Regions from separate parts of the Homo sapiens genome. Here all the other regions are linked to region 1. The links come from fine-mapping of genetic effects on gene expression. A gene starts in region 1. Each other region holds a variant in brackets. All regions are shown on one strand. Distances are between the middles of the regions.

Region 1 (5,106 bases):
CAAAGAGGTGGAGGTTGCAGTGAGCCGAGATCACGCCACTGTACCCAGCCTGGGGGGAAAATAAAAATAATAGGAAATAATAGTAAAAAAAAAAAAAAGTAAAATTAAAAATTGAAGAAGTTGTTTTTGGATAGATAGATGCATATGAGTGGATATAAAATCCATTCCAAGGGGATGGACATGCAATCCCTTTAGTGTTTACTGAATTCCTACTAAGTTCAGGGTACTGAGCTGGGTACTTCAGAGAACACATGACAAGTGAGAGGTAGCAAGTCCCAGTTCTTTACTCTTTGGTTGTTCGCAGGCTAGTAGAAGGGTAAAGACAAAGACCCAAAAAGCCTCAAGGGAAAACAGATTAATGTGGGTAGGACAAAGGAAACAGAGATCTCATCTGCTGAAATAGTGTGGCATCACCAGATGTCCTTAACACCTAGGTAAGTAAGAATCCTTTCCAGATTGCTGGGCATGGTGCTGTCAGGATCACTTCATCTCAGAAATGTCCTTACTTTCTGCCTTGGCTCCAGAACCTCCAAGCATGGAGTCAGCTTCCTGTTGGAGGAACTGTTTAAGATGCAGTTTCTTACAAGGTGGTACCTTCTTGAATAAATAGTGCTCCATCTTCAGAAAAACAACGCCTGTCTCACTCCTCAGGCTGCCCCCTCCACCTACAAAAACACTTAATCTCACTCGTCCAAAAAAACAGAAAAGGAATAAAGATTTTAGCCAGCATTCCAAACACAAAAGCTACCTCCACTTTTGGGACCCTCCCCAGCCTCCCCCAGGTACCTCTGAATGAGCTGTCTCCCTAGACTAGAAGTAGACACCAAGGCCACCTCCATAGTTTAGGCAAAGAACACAGAAAATCACGAGTCAGGAGCCTGTGGGTACATCTGATCCCACAGACTGGAAAGATTTAAGATTGAAGAGTGATAACTAAGCAAGTCTCAAAAACGAAGGCTCTTGATGATGGAAGGTAGTGTAATAAGAATCAGTACACATATTTAGGAAGGGGCATCCTCCCCCAAGCCCCACCCTACTCTTGTACAAGGTCAGCACAGAAAAGGGGATTATGAAATAAGACAAAATTAATTCTCTTATTATTACTTTAGAATTCTTTCAAGTCCCTTAGTTACAGTTCATAATCTTCACCTCCTTAGGAACGGAAATCATAAATCCAAGGCTTTTTAATTTAATTTAATTTAATTTTGGCAAAGGATGTAGATTTGCATGAATACCTGTAGAGATAAAACCTGTTTTTCCAAGAGGGAAGTAGTTAAGAAAATGCCCTCTGGCATCCCCTAACTCTGTCTTATTTGCTGTGTTATCTTTATGCGAATTACTTCTGATCAATCTCACTTTTCTCATCTGCAGAATGGGGAATATAATCCTATTTAGGATTATATATTAAAAAAAAAAAAAAAAAACTGCCGGGCGCGGTGGCTCATGCCTGTAATCCCAGCACTTTGGGAGGCCGAGGCAGGCGGATCGCCCGAGTCAGGCGTTCGAGACCAGCCTGTCCAACATGGTGAAACCTCGTCTCTACTAATAATGCACAAATTAGCTGGGCATGGTGGCTGACGCCTGTAATCCCAGCTACTTGGGAAGCTGAGGGAGGAGAATCGCTTGAACCCGGGAGGCGGAAGTTGCAGTGAGCCGAGATCACACCATTGCACTCCAGCGTCGCCCACAGAGAGCGACTCTGTCTCAACAACAACAACAAAACCAAAAGGCCCTTAAGCCCACTGCCAGGCACGTATCAAACTGACAATCGTGCAATCGTGATTTTAAGCCAAAGTCAATGTAAATTTTTAAAACACAAAACAAATGGCAAGCCGGAACCATACCTCCCTACAATCTGGATAAATATATTTAGATGCCCATTGGCTGGAGTTTTTAAGACCAGCCCAGGCTCTGTGGGCCAAGAATCGGCGCAGGAGCGAACCGATTTGTTGGCCAAGAATTCGGGCCAAAACTTGTAAAGTTGGCAGACGCACTCGCCATGCCCTTCTCAAGTGCCCTCGCTGCGCAGCCGCAGGGCTGGAGCGAGACCGCCGGCCGGAGGCGCGTTTCTCTGAGTTCACCCAGGAACCAGACGCCCGCTGGACGTCAACTCGGCCGGACGCGGGGCACGGGCGCTAACAGGCTCCTAGGAGCCTCCCCGGGCGCCCCCCGCCCAGGGCGCGCTCTGCTCACCTGCAGGTTTCGGCGGCTCCGCGGTGACTAACAACAGCGGCAGCAGCAGCAGCAGCAGCAGAAGCGGTGGCGGCTGTGGCAGCCCCGGGCGCCCGCCCGGACCGCCGCGGGTCATCGCTCCACGGCCGCGACCTTCCTCTGCGGGATCAGGCGGCCGCGGTGGCCCGCGGTGGCAGAAGTTGCAAGAGAGGCTCCTGGCCTACTCAGGGGCGCCGCCTCTCCGAGGTGGGGCGTCCTCAACTTTCCTCTTTCTTGAGCCCGGCCTGCTCCGGGCTCTGAGGGGCGAGGACGCTTCACGTGGTGGCCTGGGGCCCACCCCGCCTAGGAAAGGCGGATCCTTTACGTCTGACCCTCTAGCAACCCCTGGGCCGGTCTGGGAAAGTTCCCCAGCTGCACTTCTGGGAAATGCAGAGGCTGCCTGCCGCTTTCTTTCGCAGTTTTGCGGCCCAAGGCTTGGGCGAATCAGTTCACATCAACACCCCTACTAGCCTCTCCCTCCGGGGTCGACCATTTATCTCCAGCAGCGGACCAGGCGCCCGGGCCAGGGTGACATGCGCGCCCTGCCTACACGCAGCTCGGATCCTCTGCTGTTTCTGGAGAGGCCTCCACAGGTGCGTTTTCCTCAGCGATTAGCGTACCCCTCATTCCCAGGCTGTTTAACCTAAATCCATGCGCTGTAGCTCAGATTTTTTATCCTTTTTGCTTCCTCTTCGTTGGCTGGAGCCACCACAGGAGAGTGATTCAGACGGGGCTGACACTAGACACACTCCTACGTTTCTGTGGAGTCCCCATTTCTGTGTGGGGTCAGTTAAAAGTGACATTGTGAAGTAGTCAAAAGTTATGCCTTGGGTGATATTGTGAAGTTGGCACCGGGTGCCCTAGGTGACATTGTGAAGTAGGCAAAAGGCATTTCATTCATTCACTCAGCATTGGCTGGGCCCATCTTATACTCCAGATACCAGTGATATAAAGACAGCTAAGAGCATGCCTCACCACAGACAAAAAGAACTAAGCCAGCCGGGCGCCGTGGCTCACGCCTGTAATCCCAGCACTTTGGGAGGCCGAGGCGGGCAGATCACGAGGTCAGGATATCGAGGCCATCCTGGCTAACACGGTGAAACCCCGTCTCTACTAAAAATACAAAAAATTAGTCGGACACGGTGGCGGGCGCCTGTAGTCCAGCTACTTGGGAGGCTGACGCAGGAGAATGGCGTAAACCCGGGAGGCGGAGCTTGCAGTGAGCCGAGATCGCGCCACTCTACTCCAGCCTGGGCGACAGAGCGAGATTCGTCTCAAAAAAAAATAATAATAATAACAATAATAATTTTTTTAAAAAAGAACTAAGCCATATAGATAAACAAGTACACAGAACTTGCCATTCTACTGTGTTAGAGCTATGTTTAAGGTGCAGTGGGAGAGGGGGAAGGAGGGAACAAGCCACCTCTCAGATGGGAACCTCAGCACCCCACTCTTCCTCTTGGCCTTTCTTCTAAGCTTAACCTAGGTGTCAAGGAGAGATGAGAAGAGAGAATAAGCAGTACCTTTCATAACGGGGAAAATGTAATTGTTAGAAAAGATAAAGAACCTAAAAGTTCATCAAATCTCTGTGCAAATTGTGAAACACAAGTCACAATTTTGTGGTCCAGGCACCATGGCTCATGCCTGTAATCCCAACACTTTGGGAGGCCAAGGTGGGAGGATCACCGGAGCCCAAAAGTTCAAGACAAGCCTGTGCCACACAGGGAGACTCCAACTCATTTTTATTTAATTAAAATTAAAGTCACAATTATGTTTAATGGCATTTAATGAATGAAGACATCGAGGACATTGTAAAAGTTGCACATTTTCCTTCAAGTTAGAAAATTAAAATGAAGAAAAATTAAAACGAAGACATCGAGGACATTGTAAAAGTTGCACATTTTCCTTCGTTAGAAAATTTAAATGAAGAAAAATTAAAATGAAGACATCGAGGACATTGTAAAAGTTGCACATTTTCCTTCAAGTTAGAAAATTAAAATGAACCAAAAATGAAAATTTTGGTTGTGTTATGATGGGAAGAGAACCACATTAGGATGTTCAAGGAAGTGGTGCCACCCCAAATATTTGAGTCATATTGCCCTATACCACCCTCCTTCACCTTACTAACCCTTCTGATCCAAGGAGCCAAGTGTTCTGATGAAGTAAGATGCATATAAATGCCTAATGTGAACCTTGAGGCATTCATTCATCTATTATTTGTCATCAAATATTCGTTGACTCCCATGTTCCAAGCACAGAGCAGTAGACAAAACAAAGTCCCTGCCCTTGCAGAGCTTGCATTCCAGTAGTGGGGAGCAAATTATACATATAAACAAATTAATTGGATCAGGACTTCTCCACATCAGCACTATTGAAATTTTGGAGCAGACAACTCTTTGTTGTGGGGGGGTTGTCCTGGACACCCCTTGGCCTTTACCTACTGGATGCTAGTGGCACCCCCATTGAAAATGTCTCCAGACATTGTCAAATGCTCCCGTAGGGGGGCAAAATTGCCCCCTAGTTGAGAATCACTGAATTAGATGATAAATCTTGCTTTCTTTAAATTATGCCAGTTTTACATATCTGGGAGGAAAATGAGCTGCAAAACTCACACATAGTTAGGAAAATAAATCTTGGGACCCCAAAATCACTAAGCCAAGGGAAAAGTCAAGCTGGAAACTATGTCAGGCAAACCTGCCTCTCATTTTATTCTGAAATAAGATAGCTACAAAGATAAGAAGCTACATACCTCCCTCACAGTTTGCCCACAAGGAAATTCCCTGTGGACAAAGGGAAGACAGAACTTAAAAGTCATCCCTCTGAGGCTCACCTGAGACAAATGCACATCTGATTGCTTCCTCTGCAGTATTGTTTATGTAAAAATGCAGACTCCCT
Region 2 (5,106 bases), 48 kb before region 1:
GGGCATGGTGGCATACGCCTGTGGTCCCAGCTACTTGGGAGGCTGAGACACAAGAATCGCTTGAACCTGGGAGGCAGAGGTTGCAGTGAGCTGAGATCACGCCATTCCACTCCAGCATGGGCGACAGAGTGAGACGCCATCTCAAACAAAAAAAAAGTCCTTTAAATAGGTTCCATCTTTTATTCCCACATAGAAGCTCCACCCACCTGGCATGGCAGGAAATCCTTTGAGTTCACTGCTCTTTTAGTTTTTTGTTTGTGTTTGTGTTTTGAGACAGGCCATGCTCTGTCGCCCAGGCTGGAGTGCCGTGGCGTGATCAAGGCTCAAGGCAGCTTCAAACCCCCAGGATCAAAGGATCCTCCCACCAGGCCTCCTGAGTAGCTGGGGCTACAGGCATGCACCACCACACCTGGCTAAATTTTTTAATTTTTTGTAGAGACGGGGGTCTTGCTATGTTGCACAGCCTGGTCTCAAACTTCTGGGCTCAAGCGCTCCTCCTGCCTTGGCCTCTTAAAGTGCTGGGATTACAGGTGTGAGCCACCACACCCAGCCGGCTCTTTCAGTTTTAGCCATTTAATTTAAATCCAAACTGCATCATTTCTAAAAAAAAAAAGAAATGGATATTTATAGTTAGATATATTGCCTTTGCACCCAGTCCTCAACCACTGAATTGTGTGACCTTGACCTGTTTGACTATTTAACTTCTCTGAACTGTTTATTTTAAAAATGCAGACAAAATACCCTCCTTGAGGCTTTTTATGGAAGGCAGAATTTGTAAAAGTCAGTATGCTTTGCCTCTCGACTGCATTAACATGCCACAGGCTCAGACTGTTTTGTGTAAAGGATGTCAAAGAACTGCACTTTGTCTAAAGAGAAGTTTGATGTTTTGTATGCTTGTTAAGAAAATACAATACTAGAAGTTAATGGTAGACAACTGATTTTAAAAATACCCTTCTTGTTAGGTTTTTATGAACATTAAATGACATAATAAAAACAAAATGTTGGCCTGGCACAGTGGCTCACGCCTGTAATTCCAGCACTTTGGGAGGCTGAGGCAGGCGGATCACTTGAGGCCAGGAGTTCGAGACCAGCCTGGCCAACATGGTGAAACCGCGTCTCTACTAAAAATACAAAAATTAGCCGGGCGTGGTCACACACACCTGTAATCCCAGCTACTTGGAAGGCTGAGGCACGAGAATCACTTGAACCTGGGAGGCGGAGGTTGCAGTGAGCTGAGATCACACCACTGCACTCCATCCTGGGTAACAGAGTGAGATTCTGTCTCAGAAAACAAAACCCCCAAAACAGACAAAAACAAAATGTGCACAGTGTCAGGGACAGAGCCAGGTACATGGTAGGGGCTAAACACATATTCAGGTTTTTTGTTTTCCTTTCTATTTAATAACTAGTTGAACACAAACAAGCTTATAGTAATTTATTTAAAACTTAAATTCTGCCTAATTCCCATAAAACTAGTCAGGTCCCATTCATGTTATTTATCACAAAGGATTTGCTTCAAGTAACAAGTCCTGTGCTGAACACATAGGTTTTGCATCTGAAGTCCCTTGCTTACAATTCCTGAACATCTTAGACTCCTGTTCTCAAATCTAGGGTATGAAAGGGAGGGCAGGATGAATAGAAAGCAAGTTACAATAAGAACTGTGATCTCTTAGGCAGCCCCCACCTCCTCCTTGTTTTATTGCCCGTCTTTCTTTCCTACAGTTCCTACCATGTCCACATCAAAGTGGACATAATCTATCTCCTTACTGTTTTCCCTCTAATCCTTCTTTCTTCCTTCCTTCTTTTCTCCTTCCTTCCATAAATATTTATTCAATGATTATAATATGCAAGGCTCTGTGCTCATCCTGGGACACAGACATGAATACAGAATATGGGCTTTGAAGAAATTATGCACAGGGTACCTAGGAAGCTCAAAGGAGAGATAACTTACTTGGCCTGAAGGTTAGTAAAACCTTCTAAAAGGAGCTCTTGTGCTACTCTTTGTTAATATGAAAAGCACTAGGGTATTATGTATTACCCAGCCAAAAAAAAAATGCTCGTATCAAGGGTGAGTATTCCAATAATAGCAGCATGATAAAATTGAGTGATTTTCCCACAAATAATAATTATAAAACTGTATAAAATTATTTAAAGCAATGATCTGAAGATACTAGGAATGACCAAAGGCAGAGAGAAACAGAACATTAGTACAGCATTGGTTAAGATGGAGTATGAGGCTTCCTTGCCTGTGTGTATTCCTAAACCCGTGATATGGACTGAATTCTGTTTCCTCAAAATTCATATGTTGAAGTCTTAACCCCTAGTACCTGAAAATATGACTATATTTGGATACAGAGCATTAAAAAGGTAATTAAGGTCAACTGAGGTCATATGGGCAAACTCTAATTCAACATGACCGGTGTCCTTATAAGAAGAGGAAGTGAGCCGGGCGTGGTGGCTCATGCCTGTAATCCCAGCACTTTGGGAGGCCGAGGCAGGTGGATCATGAGGTAAGGAGATCGAGACCACCTGGCTAACAGGGCGAAACCCTGTCTCCACTAAAAATACAAAAAATTAGCCGGGTGTGGTGGCATGCACCTGTAGTCCCAGCTACTTGGGAGGCTGAGGCAGGAGAATCACATGAACCTGGGAGGCAGAGGTTGTGGTGAGCTGAGATCGCACCACTGCACTCCAGCCTGGATGACAGAGTGAGACATCATCTTAAAAAAAAAAAAAAAAA[A/G]AGGAGGAAGTGATGCCAGGTATAGCCCACACAGAGAAAAGGCCATGTGAGGACACAGTGAGAGGGTGGCCATCTGTAGGCCAAAGAGATAAACCAAACCTGTCAATATCTTGATCTTGGACTCTCAGCTTCTAGAACTGTGAGAATAATTAATTTCTGTTGTTTAAGCCACCCAGTCTTTGTCATGGCAGCCTTAGCAAACTAATATATAGCCCATACCCAACTCTAGTTATGGAAAACTAGAGCCATTCTGGCTTGAGATGGTGAGATCAAAGTCTAGTATTGCAGAACAGCTGAGAATTTAAGAGGAAAATTTTGGGAGCAAGAGAACCACAAGAAGAGCAGAGATCCAAAATCTGAATATGAACTGTGTCCTGTTCCCTGACTGACCACTAACTGTGCATGAATGTGGGAAATGCCAGGGAGCCCAGGGTAAAAACAGAAAGAAATGAGAAGGGTTTTCCCTTGTAAGACAGAAATGTTCTAGAACTGAGATAGGTGAGTTTGCTGCAACTTACACTGCCAGGGTTCCCAACTCATATGCAGCTCAAATTCCTCAGGCTCTCAGAGGACAAAGGTAAGAGCTGGAAAAGCAAATGGGAATATAGGGGAAACCTTAGGATCAAGGAAATCACAAAGAGAGTTAGCTCTATAATATGAATTTGAGCTGCCAACATCTTTCACTGACTGCTAAATTACACAGATGCAGGAGCAACCTCCAGAAGACCAGGTTGAAGCAGCAGTGTTGAGGAAGGACATTGGTTGCTGCACACTGTGCAGGTGACATATGTTGAAGTTTGAGTGCAAGCAAGGTAATTGCCTGTTAAAAACAACAACAAAAAAAGTAAAACAAGTGACTTCAGCAAGATGTCTGACTAGAGGTGCCTAACATTCATTTCCCTACAAAAAAAAAGGAACCAAAATGATGAATAAACAACTACATTTTGACTAGAGTATCCAAAGGAGAACACTAAAGTGTTCCGAAGGAGTACAATAAGGGAGGGGCAGAGACCCAGTGGAGCATGGAGACTTGGGATGGCTGCATAAAAAAGAGAATGAAACATTCTGCCTTTGCCACTTCGTCTTCCCAGTCAAGGTCGGTATGAAACCAGGAGGCAGTCTCCCTACGGAGAAAACGTGAGCAGGAGAACTCCCAGCAATCTCCATTAAAGATGCAAACACCTACAGTCTTTGCTGCTTGAGAATTCTGCAGTTTTCACAAGTCATGAACCCATTCTAGGGAGCTGCCTGGCATTCACATGGCTGTATTACTCCAAAGAATGAGCCCACATTGTGCCTCCTTCTCCTCTGTGATCTAAGCTGCTGATGTACAGCACTATCTTGAGACCGGTGCCACTACTATAGTACACTGTGCTCTGGAGGGCCAGTAACCACTGTTTGTTTCTCCCCATCCTGAGGCTCTGCTGCAAGTACACTGTGCTTGTAAACAGTAGCACACCACTCACCAGTTGAGCAGCTACTGTTTCCTATCCACCAGGAATAAGCTGCCTACGATGCACTCCATCTTCCCCATCCCTGTGGCACAGCACCTCAACCTCAATTACTCAGAGCATAGGCCCAGTGAAACAGCCATAACCTTGGTGCCTGAGCCCATGTGGTGTCCTGACGCCCAAGGAACAGATGATCCTACCCAGCAGGAAGGCCACACCTTACCCTGAAGGAGCAGTCCCTATGCACTTGCGGTGTGTGTAACAGCCTGGCACTCCTGCCCCCAGAGGACAGACTGTGTCTAATCCTATTGGAGTAGGCCTTGTGCACCCGTGGCGCATGAAACAAACTGGCACCCTTGCCACAAGCAGAAAAGCCATGCATATGATTTGACAGAGCTGCCATACAAACTCCTCCAGGCTAGGATGCCACTGAGGCATCCATAGAAATTGCTAACATTGACTACAGCTGAAAAAACTGCATGGTGACTACACTACTGCATCCACCTGGAACCACAGCCAATGCATCCTCCACAACCGACACCTTAGGACACATCTGCAGGCAAAAATCTTTTCCTATGATAACAACTCTATACAACTGGAAGAGGCATCCATTCTATCAGATGCCCAGACATCAGTGCAGGGACACAAGAAATATGAAAAAGCAAGAAAACATGATACCACCAAAAAAACACAATAACTCTCCCATAACTGACCTTAAAGAAATGGCAATTTACTAATTGCATAAAAAATTTAAAAATATGATCTTAAGGAAAATCAATGAGATTCAAGATAATATAGATAGGCAATTCAATAAAATCAGAAAAGCAAATCATGATATGAATAAAGAATTCAACAGAGATATCATTAAAAAAAAACTCTTGGAGCTGAAGACTTTAATGAATGAAATAAAAAATA
Region 3 (5,106 bases), 74 kb after region 1:
TTGAAGACGGGAGGCCGGAGTTGCAGTGAGCCAAGATCCTGCCACTGCACTCTAGTGACAGAGTGACAGAGCAAGACTCCGTCTCAAAAAAAAAAAAAAAAAAAAAATAGAGAATGAGATGTGTGCTTTAGAAGCCAGCTCATTCCTGAGTTGGGGAGTGGTGGAAAGGCACGGAGAATGCGGTAGGCTGAGGCTGGCTCCCAAAGACATGCTGCGTCCTAATACCTGGAACCTATGAATGCTACCTTATTTGGAAAAAGAGCCTTTGCAGATATAATTAAGTTACAATTCTTGAGATGAGGTGATTATTCTGTATTTTCTGGGTGGACCCAAATGCAATCACATATGTCCTAATAGAAAGGTGACAGAGGGAGAATAGACAGAAGAGAAACTGTGATCAAGAGGCAGAGATTGAATTGTGTGGCCATAAGATAAGAAATGTCAACAGCCATCAGAAGCTTCTGGAAGAAGTAAGGAATGGATTAGCCCCTTAGCTCTTCTGGAGGAAGTGTGGCCTTGCTGAACACTTGATTTCAGACTTCTAGTCTCCAGAACCGTAAGTGAATAAATTTTTGTTGTTTTAATCCATTACATTTATGGTAATTTTATAGCAGGCCAAGGAAATGAATACGGGAAGATATACTCACTTCTAGCTCTTTTTCCTCTGCTGTTTCCAAGAATAAATCTGGGCGGAAGGGTTTCATTCCATTGGAATTTTCCACTCTGAAAATCTTCTCTGGTTGGGTGAGAAAAATATAAATTACAAAGAAGAATACAGCATGAAGAAATGGAAGGAATTTCAACAGAAATCCAGTTGATTCACTCCCCTGGATGGCTCTTAGCTCAGTGAGAGTGCTGCAGAGCCTAGACCAGCACTCAGTAGACAGGTGTTGATTCAATGAGGCACCCAGTGAAAGGGTCTCATCCCACTTATAACCAGAAGGTTACCTTAAGGATAGGCTACCAGGTGGGGCACAGTGCCTCAAAGCTGTAATCCCAGCACTTCGGGAGGCTGAGGTTGGGGGATCACTCGAGCTCAGGAGCTCAGTCTGGGCAACATGGTGAAACCCCGTCTCTACATAAAGTACAAAAATTAGCCAGGTGTGGTGGTGTGCACCTGTCGTCCCAGCTACTTGGAAGGCTGAGCCATGAGGATTGCTTCAGCCCGGGAGGCAGAGGTTGCAATGAGCCAAGATCACACCACTGTACTTACTCCAGCCTGGGGGTGACAGAGCAAGACACTGTCTCAAAAAAAAAAAAAAAAAGAAAGAAAAGAAAAGAAAAAAAGAAAAAATGCTACTGTCGCTGTAAAACTCAGCTCAGGCACCACTGCCTTCAGTAGGCTTCTTCTGTCCATACTTTGACCCACCCTCTCCACGTCCCTTAGTCACCCTACTCCCCACCAAACAGTTAACGGTTAGCACGTAATAAATGCTCAGTAAGTGAGGATTGAATGAATGGAATGAAGCATTTTCCCTTGAGAGGACGTGTGGCCAAAAACTATACATCTACCCTTAGTAAGAACTAAAATATGTATGTCATCCTGTTAGAGTGATCTAGTTTAGATGTTAAGCAGGTACATTCTCTTATTGGAATCAAAAGGAAAGAGGACAATTGTAAACGAAGATTGTTAACAATGATACTGACAATAATAACACCTGGCAGTGTATGTTGTCTTATGCTTTTCAGTGCACCCTAATATTGAATCTTCCTTATATTCTTATAAAATGCATAATGCAGATGGGAAATCATTAATTTTGCATTTGAAGGAATTGTGATGTGGTTACAGACAGATTAGGGTCTCAGTAAGCCTAGAAAGCAGGTTGGCTCACTCCCAGAGGGGACACATGAATGGGTTTAGATGTACCATTCCGGTCCCGACAGCTCAAAGTGTAGAAGGTTTCTTTCCGCAGGATGATCTCCTGTGCGATGATCCCATAGCTGTACACATCTCCTTTCTGAGAGATGTTGGCTTGGCGGAGGTGCTCTGGAGCTGTCCACAGGTCTGTAAATGTAGACATTGAGATTACAAAGTTGAGGGGGGTGAGTGGTTCATAGGCCTCCAACCTGCTTTTGCTCTCTAATTCCCTACACCATCCACTCTAAATATGGGTGATAGCTTATAAGTGGCCTTGAATTGATATGATTCCAAATTTTTGAAAAATTTTTGCTAATCCTGGTGATCAAAGGTAGAACACACACCTTTTAGACTAACTATGAAATGTTAGGATTTGGGTGAGGTCATATGGCAATATGTTATTTAAAACTGCTAGGATCATAGTCTTGAAAACTCTCAAAGTTTACCTGGAATGGGGTCTGATTGTGGTAAATGCTCAGTAAATATATGTTGAATGAATACAGTAGAATATGAGAGGCTGAGGAATTTAGTAGTTTATGGGACATATGGAATGAACCTATGAAAGCCTTCAAAATACAAATTTTGGCCAGGCGTAGTGGCTTACGCTGGTAATCCCAGTACTTTGGGAGGCCAAGGCAGGTGGATCACAAGGTCAGGAGATTGAGACCAGCCTGGCCAATATGGTGAAACCCTGTCTCTACTAAAAATACAAAAATTAGCCAGGCGTGGTGGTGGGTGCCTGTAGTCCCAGCTTCTCAGGAGGCTGAGGCAGGAGAATTGCTTGAACCTGGGAGGTGGAGGTTGCAGTGAGACGAGATCACACCACTGCACTCCAGCCTGGGTGACAGAGCGAGACTCCATCTCAAAAAAAAAAATACAAATTTTATGTGTACTAAATTTATTTTATTT[A/T]AATTATTATAATTTATTAGTTAATGTGTATATGCATATTTAAATATAAATTTACCAAAAGAAGATAAAGACAGTACATTAAGACAAAGAGACTATGGCTGATATTTTCAAGGCATAACATACTGGCAGCCTGCAACTCAGCTAGGGTCCACAGTGGTGTTTTTGCTGGTTCCCACAGTATTCTTAAAAAAGTATCGCATGTAATTTACTCACAGTTTACTCCTGTCCCTGCCACTCCCTAGTGCTTACATCTAGTTCACTCACTTCACATGAGTGCAATGCTGTATTTAGCTCCTATAGATACTCGAGTTTTGAATCCTTATTACACACCTTATTTAGTAATAACGGGCATGCAATTAATTTTTCTTCAACATGCTTCGTAAGTTTTTCAGGATCACCTAGCTCCTTATAAACTTTTTAAGACTTACCTTCACCAGTTTCAATGAAACATGTATAGTTTCATGTTGTTAGGTGCAATAATATGTTTATGATGATGCACACTTTCCTTATTTGGTTCTCTGTCCAAATGTACATCACCTTTTTGAATTTGTGTCTTGTGAATTTTTGTGAATTGTGATTCATGCATAGTTGATCATAAAGGTTAGGGGTTGTAGAAAAGGTAAGTAAATCTACTTATGCTAAAATTTTAGGTAACTGATGCCATAGGTAGGTAGGTATAAGCGAGTGCTGTTTAAGATGATAGGATTTGACCTGTAATTTATCTGATTTGTGTCATGCTAGGTTATCTGATGACGATTTGTACTACTATGTCATGAACCAGGCTTGGCACAGGTCTTCAATAAGAAATTATTAGATTGAGTTCAATATCATATTATGCTTGAAATGGCTGTGGATGTAGGGACAGAATCGCAATTTTCCTTTTATTAAGGAAAAACGAAAGGATTGCAAAGTTGAATTAGAAATATAATTTGGTGTTTGGATCTAGGTAGTATTTTAAGGCAACATGAGTTCTAGATATCTGAGTCTGTTTAACTGTGAGTCATAGTCAAGAAAGGGTAAATGTTCAACACGAAAAGCCCTTTATACTTTACAAATCCGTTTTCTTTATGTTATCTTTTTTGACTCTCACCACAATCCTGAAAGAGGTAAGAATATATTTTACTGGTTAGAGTTTTTTCCTTAACATTTCTTATTACCACACATAAATGAATGATGTCTTGAATGGGAAATGGGTCTTCTGGTTTGTACTCTACCTTCTTGGACAAATCTGAGTCTCAGTGCTGTCCTCTATAAAGGAAAAAGCTTAAATTAGACGATGTCTAAGGTCTCTTCCTGCTCTAACCTTCTATATTTTTTTCAGCTAGTTCTGCTCCCACAAGCCATTAAGTTATTCATGATTTCTCAGTGTAGCAAGGGACGCATGGATGAAGGAAATCCACAGAGGACATTTGTTTAACTCAGGAAATACTCGTTGACTGACAAGTGTGAAGTTCTGGAGAATGAGCCAGCTGTTGTCTCTTGTGGCTTTAAGTGCTTATCTTCTGATCAGTATTACAATTTCCTGACCACGCTACATGGGTTTGAAAAAAAAATCAGTTAGGAAACTAGTGAACATTTCATTCATTACAGACCCTTTTTTGGAGGTAAAATGGAATTGCAGCCAAAATCAGTGATCTTCACCACCATTCTACTGTCCACTACGCAGTTGGTAGATTTCAGACGACCATGGACTTCTGTCTTACTGGAGTGCAGATATGACATTCCCTGTAATTTTTTAGATGATAGAAAAACAGAAATGTGACACACTTCAGCTGCTTGATTATTTTAAAGAAAAAAGTGACATTTGGAAACCATTTCAGCAGATGGTCACACCATCAGATTTTAATTTTAGTCCCACTATTTTTACCTTAACAATATTACTGAAGCCCTAATATTTGCCTACACTTTATATCTAGTTTCAAAGTCTGTTTAAATGACAGAGTAAAAGGGAATTGTCTAAAATATCTGCTTAAGTAGTTGTGTATAATATGAGGCAAAGGGTTGATTTTTTTTAAGTGTTTCTGCTTACCACTTATTTGGTCTGTGACCCTGGGTAGGTCTCTGGTCCTGTTTTACATGAATTTAAAATAAAAATATGAATAATAGTGCCTTGCTTTTCCAAAGGGGCAGGGTGCCAGGCTAGATTATTTCCTAAAGTGGAAGTGGTTTCATCCTATTTTGAAGCAATGTTTCATTCATTCTGTTTCAAAAGGGGAAGCCTGGCCCCCGTGATGGCTCATGCCTGTAATCCCAGCACTTTGGGAGGCCGAGCTACTCAGGAAGCTGAGGCAGGATAATCGCTTGAATTTGGAAGGCCGAGGTTGCAGTGAGCTGAGATC
Region 4 (5,106 bases), 57 kb before region 1:
TTAAAGAAGAAAAACAGATTTGTTGCTAAAACATATCTAGGTTATATAGGCTCAGGAATTAGATTGCCTGGATTTGAAGCCTGGTTCTGCCATTATTAGGTATGTGACCTTGAACAAATTGCTTATCCCCTTTGTGCCTCAGTTTCTTCATCTTCATTAACTATTCAGCATTAAGCATCTTCATAAGCATGAGCATGAAATGCATTCAGATGGAGTGCTTACAATAGTATCTAATACTTGGTAAACATTAGATTATTATATTTCTCTTTGTGAAAACAGCTCAAATGAATAACGAAAATGTCTACTTTATACTTCACATTTCATGAAGCTTCGTGATTTAAAACAGAGCAACTTGGCCTGGTGCAGTGGCTTGTGCCTGTAATCCCAGCACTTTGGGAGGCTGAGGCAGGTGGATTGCTTGAGCTCTGAAGTTCAAGACCAGGCTGGGCAATATGGCAAGACCCTGCCTCCACTAAAAATATAAAAAAATAGCCAGGCATTGGGGTGCACACCTGTGGTCCCAGCTACTCGGGAGGCTGAGGCCCGAGAACCGCTTGAACCCGAGAGGCAAAGGTTGTAGTGAGCCGAGATCACGCAGCTGCAATCTAGCCTGGGTGACAAAGCGAGACCCTGTCTCAAAATAAATAAAGAAAATAGAGCAGCTTGTTTAATCTCACAAAAACCTGATGATGTATAAGTATTACCATCCCTTTTTTAAACAGAAGAAACAGAGTTTCAGAGAGGTCAATTGTCTTCCTTGGCTCACAAAACTTGACAGAATACAGGCCTTCTAACTAAAACATCCAGGGCTTCTATCACCATACCACAGTTGCTTAAATACGTTAGGAGATGTGCCCACCCCCGACCCCGACGCCCCCGCCTTTTTAATGGCTATATGATATCATGTATTTGTTTGGGCAAAACATGTTTCTTTCTGAGCTTTTCTTTACTCACAGTAAAATGGCAACAATAACACTTATGGGGTAGTATGTTACAAACATCAAACAAGAGAACATAAGTAAAAGGCCCAGAAGAGTGTCTAGAATGCAGTAGGTACTCTGAATTTAACTCTCTGTTCTTCTCTCCTCTGGCAAAGAAAAAAAAATACAGACAGATCATCATCAACTCTTTTTAGTCTTAGGGAGTTTCAAGGGGTCTAGGAATGGGACTGCAGAGAACCAAGTCTACCATTCTGTTATCAGCAACTGTCCAAAGAAGAAAAGACTACTTTAGCAAGCATCTCTCTCTCTTGAGGCATGCTATTATTTTCAGGCTCTTAGGAGCTGGGTTCTCTGTTTTGAATTGCTCTATGCTAAACAGTAACCACCTAATGATTTGACTTCTTGGATGGATTTTCCTAACAAGCAAAGAAGAAGGTAGGTCCACTGCTTGGTAGCATATGAACTGCTTGGCAATGAAACTCCCACCTTTTGTTTTATGCATAAGTCTTAGTGCATTTAGTTGGTGTGACCCATTCTCCACTGACAAGGCTCACTCTAGGCATCATTACAAAGTCAATTTGGGGACCTGGAAAACTGAGGACCAGGTCCTGATCCCTAGGGTCCACACTTTATCTCCGTTCTGTCCCTATTCATCTGCCAGTTGATCTATTGCAATAGTCTCCTAACTAGTCTCTTTTCTTCCCACCCAGTCTATTCTCCCTTGTCAGGAACTCCCAATTTCTAAAACATAAAGTCTGAACTGTCCAGTAGGATTTTTAAAGCTAACATTTTCTCTCAATAAATCTATCTATTTATCTTAATTAATTTTCATGACCATCCTGTGAAATTGTAGAGTTCCACACTCCCACATCCAGAAATTCTTGGGAGCCAGATGAGTCTCAGAATTTAGGGTTTTTCAGACTTTAGAACAACCATGGAGTGCATGGATTATATGACATTACAGTCTCTTTGGGAAACACCTCATAATCAAAGATGTTGATATTTCTGTAGCCTAATGTATACATGGTGTCTCTAAGAGGAAATAAAGACAATTTAAAAAAACAGGCTGGGCACC[A/G]CAATTTGGAAGGCCGACGCAGACAGATCACCTGAGGTCAGGAGTTCAACCTGGCCAACTGGTGAAACCCCGTCTCTACTAAAAACACACAAAAAATTAGCCAGGTGTGGTGGCACGTGCCTGTAGTCCCAGCTACTCAGGAGGCTGAGACAGGAGAATCGCTTGAACCCGAAAGGCAGAGGTTGCAGGGAGCCGAGATCGCACCACCGTACTCCAGCCTGGGTGACAGAGCGACACTCCATCTGAAGAAAAATAAAAATTAAAATTAAAAACCACTAAAAGTTTCTTTCTGGTAGTTTTTGCTGCCAAGTGAGTTCAGATCAGGTCATTTTCTTGCTACCAAGTGAGCTAGGCTACCAAATCAAAGCAAAACAAGAGAAACAAAATAATAATTTGTGGTTTTACAATTTTGGAATTTTAAAATTACAAATACGTGGTTGTGGACCTATATCACGATTCAGTTTTATAGATGAGGAAAATGAGGCTTGGAGAGATTCACTAATTTGCCTGAGATTTTAAGGAACTGAGATTTGAATCAAGGCAGTGAGCCTCCTGGCTTCAAATGTCTGGACTCCTTCTTGCCCACCAGAAGTGCCTTCTCTGACTCCACCCACTAACAGCCACGTTCTGTTTAGGTTCACCACTGGCCTAGGGACATGAGACCTGATGACAGCTCTTCCCATCCTGAGTTCCTGCAGCTGCTTTGAGTGCTTTGCTTCCCTACTAGACTCCTGAGTCCTTCCAGGTCAGGGATTCTGTATCCTTGCTTTTCTAGTCCCTGGGCCACAGTGGCACTCCAAAAATATTTGCTGAATTGAACTTAAAGCTTTAACCAGGAACACAGGAGAAAAGGTAACATTAGAACTATGAGAAATCATAGAGTCATGAATGCCTGATTTGCGTCCCAATCTGCACATTGTCCTATAAGAGTTTGAGATGTAGGTTTACATGTTGTGCTAAACCTGGTCATTCTGGTGTAATATAGCATCCCCATCCTGTCTTCCCCACCATACCCTCCCCCACCACACATTCACACAATGTGCATTCCCCTACCATATATGAACACACACATACTCATCAGGTTTTAAGACTTACGACATGAAGAAAGTACCTTTCCGTAGAACATCAGTTTGTTCAGAATATTCTACATATGTAGGAATTTGCTCCACAATGTACAGAGTGCCTTTGTCAAGACTGTGGTTCAGCTTTACTTTCTTCAGGTCCAGAACCATGTATTGATTGTTATAGGTGCCTGAAATATCAGGAAACATGAAGACGGGGCATGGGTATGACTTTACTGGTTAACAAGCCTAAATCAAAATATATGTCTGTGCCTAACAGTTATTCTGCAGGGTCACTTACCAGAGTTGTATTTTGAAAAGATGTCTGCCCACCTCTTGCCACTATCTGCCATCATATTGGCCACACGGACTCTTTGCCAGGACAGGAGAGTCTCGGGTATTACCTGCTTTAGCAGGGTTTTATTAAACACACTGTTTGTGGTCTGCAGCAATATCAATCCACTGCTAAGAATGTAAAAATCATCCAGAGACTCCAAAAACCCTACAGGAAAGACAAATATACACATCAGCATATGTATACATGGAACAGTGAACCATCATTATTGACAAAGAGCTTTACATACACAATGCATTTTGCAAAGTGTATCAGTTATTACTATCCTTGATCTGCAGTAGCCTCCCCCAGCTTTGGCTCACCTCTGTGGTAGTCACCCAACTGCCCCTTATAGAGGTGCCAAAAGAACTCCACCCCTGGATTCTCCATTGAAAATTTATTTTGTGATTTGAAATAACAAAAATATGTTAAATCCAGAACATTGCAAGCTTCCAGAATGATAAACAGATGTAGATCCCGACTTGCTAGGATTTTGCAGGAGAATTTTTAATTAGGGAGGGGATTAGCAGGGTTCATTAGTAAGAATATAAATGCCTTTTTTTCTTCTTTTCTACTTTCCTGTATTTTTCAAATTTTGTATAAGTCTACTTTTTTTTTTTTTTTGACACACAGTCTGACTCTGTCACCCAGGCTGCAGTGTGGTGGCATGATCTCAGCTCACTGCAACCTTGCCTCCTGGGTTCAAGCAATTCTTGTGCCTCAGCCTCCTGAGTAGCTGGGGTTACAGGTGTGCACCACCACACCTGGCTAATTTTTGTATTTTTAGTAGAGACCGGGTTTCACCGTGTTGGCCAGGCTGGTCTCAAACTCCTGACCTCAAGTGATTCACCCACCTTAGCCTCTAAAGTGCTGGGATTACAGGTGTGGGCCACCACACCCGGCTAAGTCTACATAATTTTTATAAATGGAAAAACATCTACATTTAGAAAAGTAAAGATGGTTTTGAAACTAGGGCATTGACACTCTTGGTCAATGCTTTTTTATAAATGTTGGAGGCAACACAGGAAAATCAGTGAAGCCACAGTCTTTTCTGAAGACCTATTTTGTGGTTTATACTGGGATGAGTATGGAAAGGATAGAATATCAGGCACAGCTGTAATAAAAAGAGAGGATATACTGTCATCAGTAACAGTAATGGAACAACTGTCAGTGTTAAACAGAAAAGGACCTCAGTGGTAGGGTTAGAAGGGGCCAGAGTGGTAAGTTCCTTCGGTGCATCCTGCTGAAGGGTTTTAAGGCCCTTACAAAACAGTCCCGAGGGAGCTAGCTAGCCCCTTCCACTATGTGAGGTCACAGAGAGAAGGCACTGTCTACGAGAAACAGACCCTCATTAGACACTGAGTCTTCCAGTCCCTTCATCTTGGGCTTCCCAGCCTCCAGAACTGTGAGCAATAACATTTCTATAGCTTATAAATTACCTAGTCTGAGGTGTTTTGTCATAGTAGTCAGAATGGACTGAGATGGTCTCAAATTTCTACCATGATTTTTTACCACTTTTATCATTTTTGCCATATCTGAGTACTATCTGAACTATCATTTAGTTAATATTTTTGTTATTTTTTAACTGACAAGTAAAAATTATATATATTTATGTTATACAAAAGAAAGGATATTTTGATATCTGACAAGGAAACATTGTATATATTTTGGCATACAAAATGATATTCTGATATA
Region 5 (5,106 bases), 37 kb before region 1:
AATGATAATGGGGACTTTACAGATCCTACAGACATTAAGAGGTTAAGAAAAACATTATAAATAGCTTCATATCAATAAAAACAATAACTTAGAAAGAAGGGATAAATTCCTTGAAAGATACATTTTTAAAACTAACTCAAGAAGAGTTAGAAAACTGAAATAGTTCTGTAGCAGTGAAAGAAATTAAATTTACAATTAATAACTTTTCAACAAATAAAAACCTTCATATCTAGCTTCACGCGTGAATTCTATTAAACACTTAAAGAAGAAAATGGGCTGGGCACAGTGGCTCACACCTGTAATCTCAGCATTTTGGGAAACCAAGGCAGGAGGATCACTTGAGCCTAGGTGTTTGAGGCTGCAGTGAGCTATGTTCACACCACTGTACTCCAGCCTGGGGGACAGAGTGAGACCCTGTCTTTAAAAATAAATAAATAAATAAATAAATAGAATAAAATAACACTAATCATATACATGCTCTTAAAACACTTAGGAGAAAGAAATAATTCCACATTTAGGATATGAGGATAAGCTTATCCTAAAACAAAAACCATCATAAGAAAAGCAGACTACAAACAAATATGTCTCATGAATGTAAATGAAAAAAATCATTAACACGTTAGTAAACTGAACTAAAAATAAATACAGAGAATAACACATCATGACTGAGGATTAACCCAGGAATTTCAAGTGGTTTAACATCTGAAAATCAATCAATGTAACTTATCATATTAATAAAGGAAAAAATTCATATGATCTTTTCAACAATTGCTGAGAAAGAATTCAGAAAAATGCAACACTCATTTATTGATAAAAATATTAAAGAAAGTAGGAAGAGCAGGGACCTTCCTTAACATTATAAAGGGCATCTACAAAAAATCTGCAGTTAACATCATACTTAATGGTGAAAGACAATACTTTTCACCCTAGGTCAGGAATTGGGCAAGGATTTGCATGCTCACCACTTATGGTCTCCATTATTCTGGAGGTCTTCTCCAGCACAATCATACAAAAAAACAATCAAAGACATACAAGGGATGGAAGAAGTCAAACTGTCTTTATTTAGAGATGTCATGATTGTATATATAGAAAATCCCAAGGAATCTACAAAAAAGCTATTAGAAAGATCTCAGGATAATAATGTACAAAAAAATCGTAATACATTGTGGTAGTTTTCAAATTTCCACAAATTCTTTGGCACCCTTCTCTTTAAAAGGTGGATTCTAATCGCCTTTCCTTGAATGTGGGCTGGTCATAACACCTTGCTTCTAATTAATAGAACCTGGTGGAAGTGAGCGTGTGTGACGTCTGAGGTGAGGTCACAATAGGCATTACTATTTCTGCCTTGTTCTTTTGGATGGCTTCGTCTGGAGCCAGGGGTCTTGCCATGAAGGACATTCAAGCAGTTCTGAGGAGAGGCCCAAGTGAAGAGGAACCAGTTGCCAGCACCACCCTGTCAGCTATGTTAGTAAGTCGTTTTGGAAGTGCATGTTCCAGTCTCAGTTAAGCTATCAGAGATTTTAGCCCCTCAGTCATTGAGTCTTCCAGCTGAGGCCCCAGTCACAGTAGAGACAAATTATCCCCACTGTGCCCTATCTAAATTCCTGATCCACAGAAACCATGAGTAACTAAATCATTATTGTTTTTAGCCACTAATGTTTGGAGCAATTTGTTATGTGGCAATGGGTAACCAATAAATACATATGAGCAACAAACAACTGAAAAAAGAATAAAAAACATTTTGATTACAGTAGCATCAAACATTACTTAGGATTTAACTTACTTAAAGGTATGTAAGACCTAAATACTGAAAACTACATGATATGACTCAAATTAAAGACTGAAATAAACAAATAGATTATATTAGTAGATTGGAAGACTCAATGTTGTTGACAAGTAAATTTTCTCTGGATTGGTTAAAACTATCAGATCTTTGTGCTGAGGTCTTCACACAATTGTATTGGCTGCCATTTCAGTGCCGTCATTTTCTAGTGATTTATCTCTTTGTCTTACCTCCTTGATTATTAATTTGCATTGCCAAAATAAGTAAATGTGTGGGGAGGGCTAGTGCAAGGCTTCTCCATTCCTTACTCAGCCTTAGCTGTTACTAGGCAAACAGACCATGTATTCAAAACCCTTCTTGTTAGGGACAGAAACTCCTAGAACAAGGCCATTCAAAGCCACTTTCCTTTGGGTATCCAGTGCCTCAGGCAAGTGTTTTTTGTTGTTGTTGTTGTTTTGTTGTTGTTTGTTTGTCTTTTTTAACAGGGCCCCTGCCTATATAAACAATTTGATTAAAAACATATATTTAAAAATTCATCAGTACATGTGAGATATGATGATTTATCATTGAAGATTTAGGATGATGGGCAGAGAAAGGCAATCTGTTTTGTCTATTGTCCAATCAGTGCACGTGAAGATTTGTTACAGTATCCAGGTACCATCTCTTTGTATTCTTTATTATTAAATGCATTGTTCTTGGCTAATTTCCTATTTTTTGTTATGAGAAAAAGGTAGCAATACTGTTATTACAAAACCATGACTTT[T/C]TGGAACCTGTTTGTTTTGAAACAACACAGATCTCCTTGCCTCTGCAGTTCCCTAACACCATTTTCTTAATGACTTTGCGACATCTACCACTCTACCTGTGAATCCTGGCTTCTAATGACTCAAAAATCCTTATTATGCTTTGTTAATGATGACCACAAATGCAAGCCTTACCCAGAGTGTTAAAAAAATTGTGAATGATAATTTGTTTTATGGTTACTAAAGCTACACTGGGAATTTTACAGTGTAAACATAGATCGACATGTTTTCTGTTGGACTCTTCAGGCTAATTGCTGCCTCCCTAGAATGTAATCTCTTTGTTGTTGTTCTTGAGACGAGGCCTCACTCTGTCCCCCAAGCTGAAGTGCAGTGGTGCTATCTCGGCTCCCTGCAACCTCTGCTTCCAGGGCTCAAGCTGTTCTTCAGCCTCAGCCTCCCAAATAGCTGGGATTACAGGCATGAGCTACCAACACTCGGCTGATTTTTTTGTATTTTTGCAGAGACGGGCTCTTGCCATGTTGCCCAGGTCTCAAACTCCTGAGCTCAAGATAATCCGCCCACCCTGGCCTCCTAAATTGCTGGGATTACAGGCATGAGCCTGCTTAGCCTGTTTAAATGTTAAGTGCATGTATTTGAAAGTAGGTACATAAAAAGATAAAAGAACAGGCTAAAAGCCCCAGGAAAATTTAAGTAAAGTTTTCATAATTTAAGGCTTCACAATTTAAGTCAAGTCTTCATGAGTCAAATCTCTTTTCATGCTGAACCCTCCCCCACCTTCACTCCTCACCCACGGGCACCAGTGGGTAGGATAGGTGAGAAGCCTATAAGTCGAGCTGGAAGAGCTGTCCCAATCACACCAGAAAAATCCATCTGGCTTAAGACTGACCCAAGACAGTAGGAAGTCACATCACCAACTGCAGCAAAAGATTTGCTGCAAAGGCCCGTTTGTGTTGTGGAGCAAGGTTCTCAAAAGGCCTCAGAGGGGCCAGGCCTAGCCCGCCCCAAGGACTGACCGACACATGGTACAGAGCTGCAGGGGTGAGGAGGCCACGACAGGGGCCAGATGTGGAGCTCATAGGTCGAAGTTCGCTTTACCGTCCTCCCCTGCTGCATGCTGAAACCCGAGGGTAAGAGGTGGTTTTCAGTAGCATAGAGCCCTGAACATATGCTCTGACATGAGAGTCACCCCAGGTCATCGTGTGACCACCGTTCTGACAGCTCAGTTATGCACCATCTTGCAAAAAATATATACTGTGAGGGCCAACTAGAGGAATCTGCTTACCAGGACCAGGCCATAGGCTTGAGTCCCAGAGCTCCTTAGGGCATCTTGTTGAACCCATGCGTGGGCAGGAATGGAGGAGAAGAGCCCCCAGATAGGGAGTCCACATGCGTTGCTTTCTGGACTCAGAGAAGCTGACCTGGATGGCTCTGCCACCTTGGTCAGTCTTGGGCACTAGAAGGGGATTTTGAAATTTTCTGGAAAGGAGCTTTCTAAACTAGATGCACAGAGACACAGGTCAAGATACTGCCAGCCTGGCCAGTCTCAGGATGCTGGAGGGGGATTTAGGTAATTTTCATGAAGGTAATTCCAAGCTGGGAGGGTGGGGTTCCTGTGCCCAGACCTAAGGGTGGTACTGAGGTTATCAGCACCTGGTATACTTTGGTATACTTTTGACCTTCCCTGGGTATTGCATGTTAGCCTCTTTAGGTGAAATAATTTCCTCAATCTCCACTTTGTATTTTAGAAAAGACTAAAAAAGACCAAGCCTGTTAAACAACTCCATCAAAGAAAAACAAGGAAGCCATCCAGCTTTGTTCTGGACTCAGCAGCTAAGATGGCATGAGCTTCATCGTAAAGCATAGTTCTATGTCATGTCTACTGGATGAATCCAATGTGGCTGGTCCCTTAATAAAATAAGTTGTAACATAAATGAGACTGCACATGTTTTCCTGTTTGGTGCTGAGAACAAAGCTGCCCAGTTAGAGAAAATATGAATCCCACTGTTCCATTGGCTCCTGTAAAAATGTTTTGGGGTATATATAAAACTGTCTGTTGCTCTCTTGGAGATTCAATTGCTCCAAAAAGCTCTACATATTATCTATGAAATCTACTTGTGTATCTCATCTGGAAGGATACATATGCAAATGTTAACAGGATTATACGTTTCATAAGAAAATCTTCCATGACCTTCTCCATCACTACCTCTGGGATCCAGGACTGTTAACACTACTGGAGAGCATTGTATTCCACAGAGATTTCAAAGCAGTGCACATAACATCTGAATATTGCATTTTATCACAAAGATGAGGAAGAGGAAGAATACTGGACTGCTCTGTCTCTTGCTGTCCTTAAATGTCAGTGTAATAGAATGTGAAAGAATCAAAGCACAGTCTAACTCAGAGAGAGGAGTCCCCAGTCCCCCTCAATGCTAAAACAACTAAGCAAACTAAGACAAAGATGAAATCAAATTGGTTTCAAAGAAAGGATCAGGTCACAAGGACAGAGAAATACTGGGTTATGCCCTTGGTCAGAATTCCTGATAGGGGCCGGACATGATTGCT

What was found.
Region 2: its variant is fine-mapped to the expression of PLBD1 in whole blood (TOPMed, PIP above 0.99).
Region 3: its variant is fine-mapped to the expression of PLBD1 in whole blood (TOPMed, PIP 0.96).
Region 4: its variant is fine-mapped to the expression of PLBD1 in whole blood (TOPMed, PIP 0.90).
Region 5: its variant is fine-mapped to the expression of PLBD1 in whole blood (INTERVAL, PIP above 0.99).

Annotation. Positions count from the first base shown.
Region 1 is chr12:14,565,389-14,570,494 of GRCh38, forward strand. PLBD1 (phospholipase B domain containing 1) reads right to left here and starts at 2,495. Exons shown (of 11, transcript NM_024829.6): 1 at 2,194-2,495. The coding sequence starts at 2,308. It overlaps PLBD1-AS1 (PLBD1 antisense RNA 1), which reads left to right and starts at 2,344. Exons shown (of 6, transcript NR_120465.1): 1 at 2,344-2,418; 2 at 2,631-2,804. RefSeq lists silencers at 1,340-1,516, 2,256-2,365 and an enhancer at 1,761-2,442.
Region 2 is chr12:14,516,896-14,522,001 of GRCh38, forward strand. All of the region lies in intron 6 of PLBD1 (phospholipase B domain containing 1), which reads right to left. Among named protein-coding and RNA genes, the nearest start is that of PLBD1-AS2, 11 kb to the right of the region's middle. The variant A/G (reference allele first, on the strand shown) is at 2,741.
Region 3 is chr12:14,639,215-14,644,320 of GRCh38, forward strand. It overlaps GUCY2C (guanylate cyclase 2C), which reads right to left. Exons shown (of 27, transcript NM_004963.4): 17 at 4,360-4,492; 18 at 1,868-2,005; 19 at 648-736. Among named protein-coding and RNA genes, the nearest start is that of GUCY2C-AS1, 24 kb to the right of the region's middle. RefSeq lists an enhancer at 5,106. The variant A/T (reference allele first, on the strand shown) is at 2,768.
Region 4 is chr12:14,508,133-14,513,238 of GRCh38, forward strand. PLBD1 (phospholipase B domain containing 1) reads right to left here. Exons shown (of 11, transcript NM_024829.6): 7 at 3,379-3,579; 8 at 3,128-3,268. Among named protein-coding and RNA genes, the nearest start is that of PLBD1-AS2, 19 kb to the right of the region's middle. The variant A/G (reference allele first, on the strand shown) is at 2,017.
Region 5 is chr12:14,528,774-14,533,879 of GRCh38, forward strand. The region is part of intron 6 of PLBD1 (phospholipase B domain containing 1); the gene reads right to left. PLBD1-AS2 (PLBD1 antisense RNA 2) reads left to right here and starts at 1,366. Exons shown (of 5, transcript NR_187784.1): 1 at 1,366-1,468; 2 at 2,269-2,437. The variant T/C (reference allele first, on the strand shown) is at 2,547.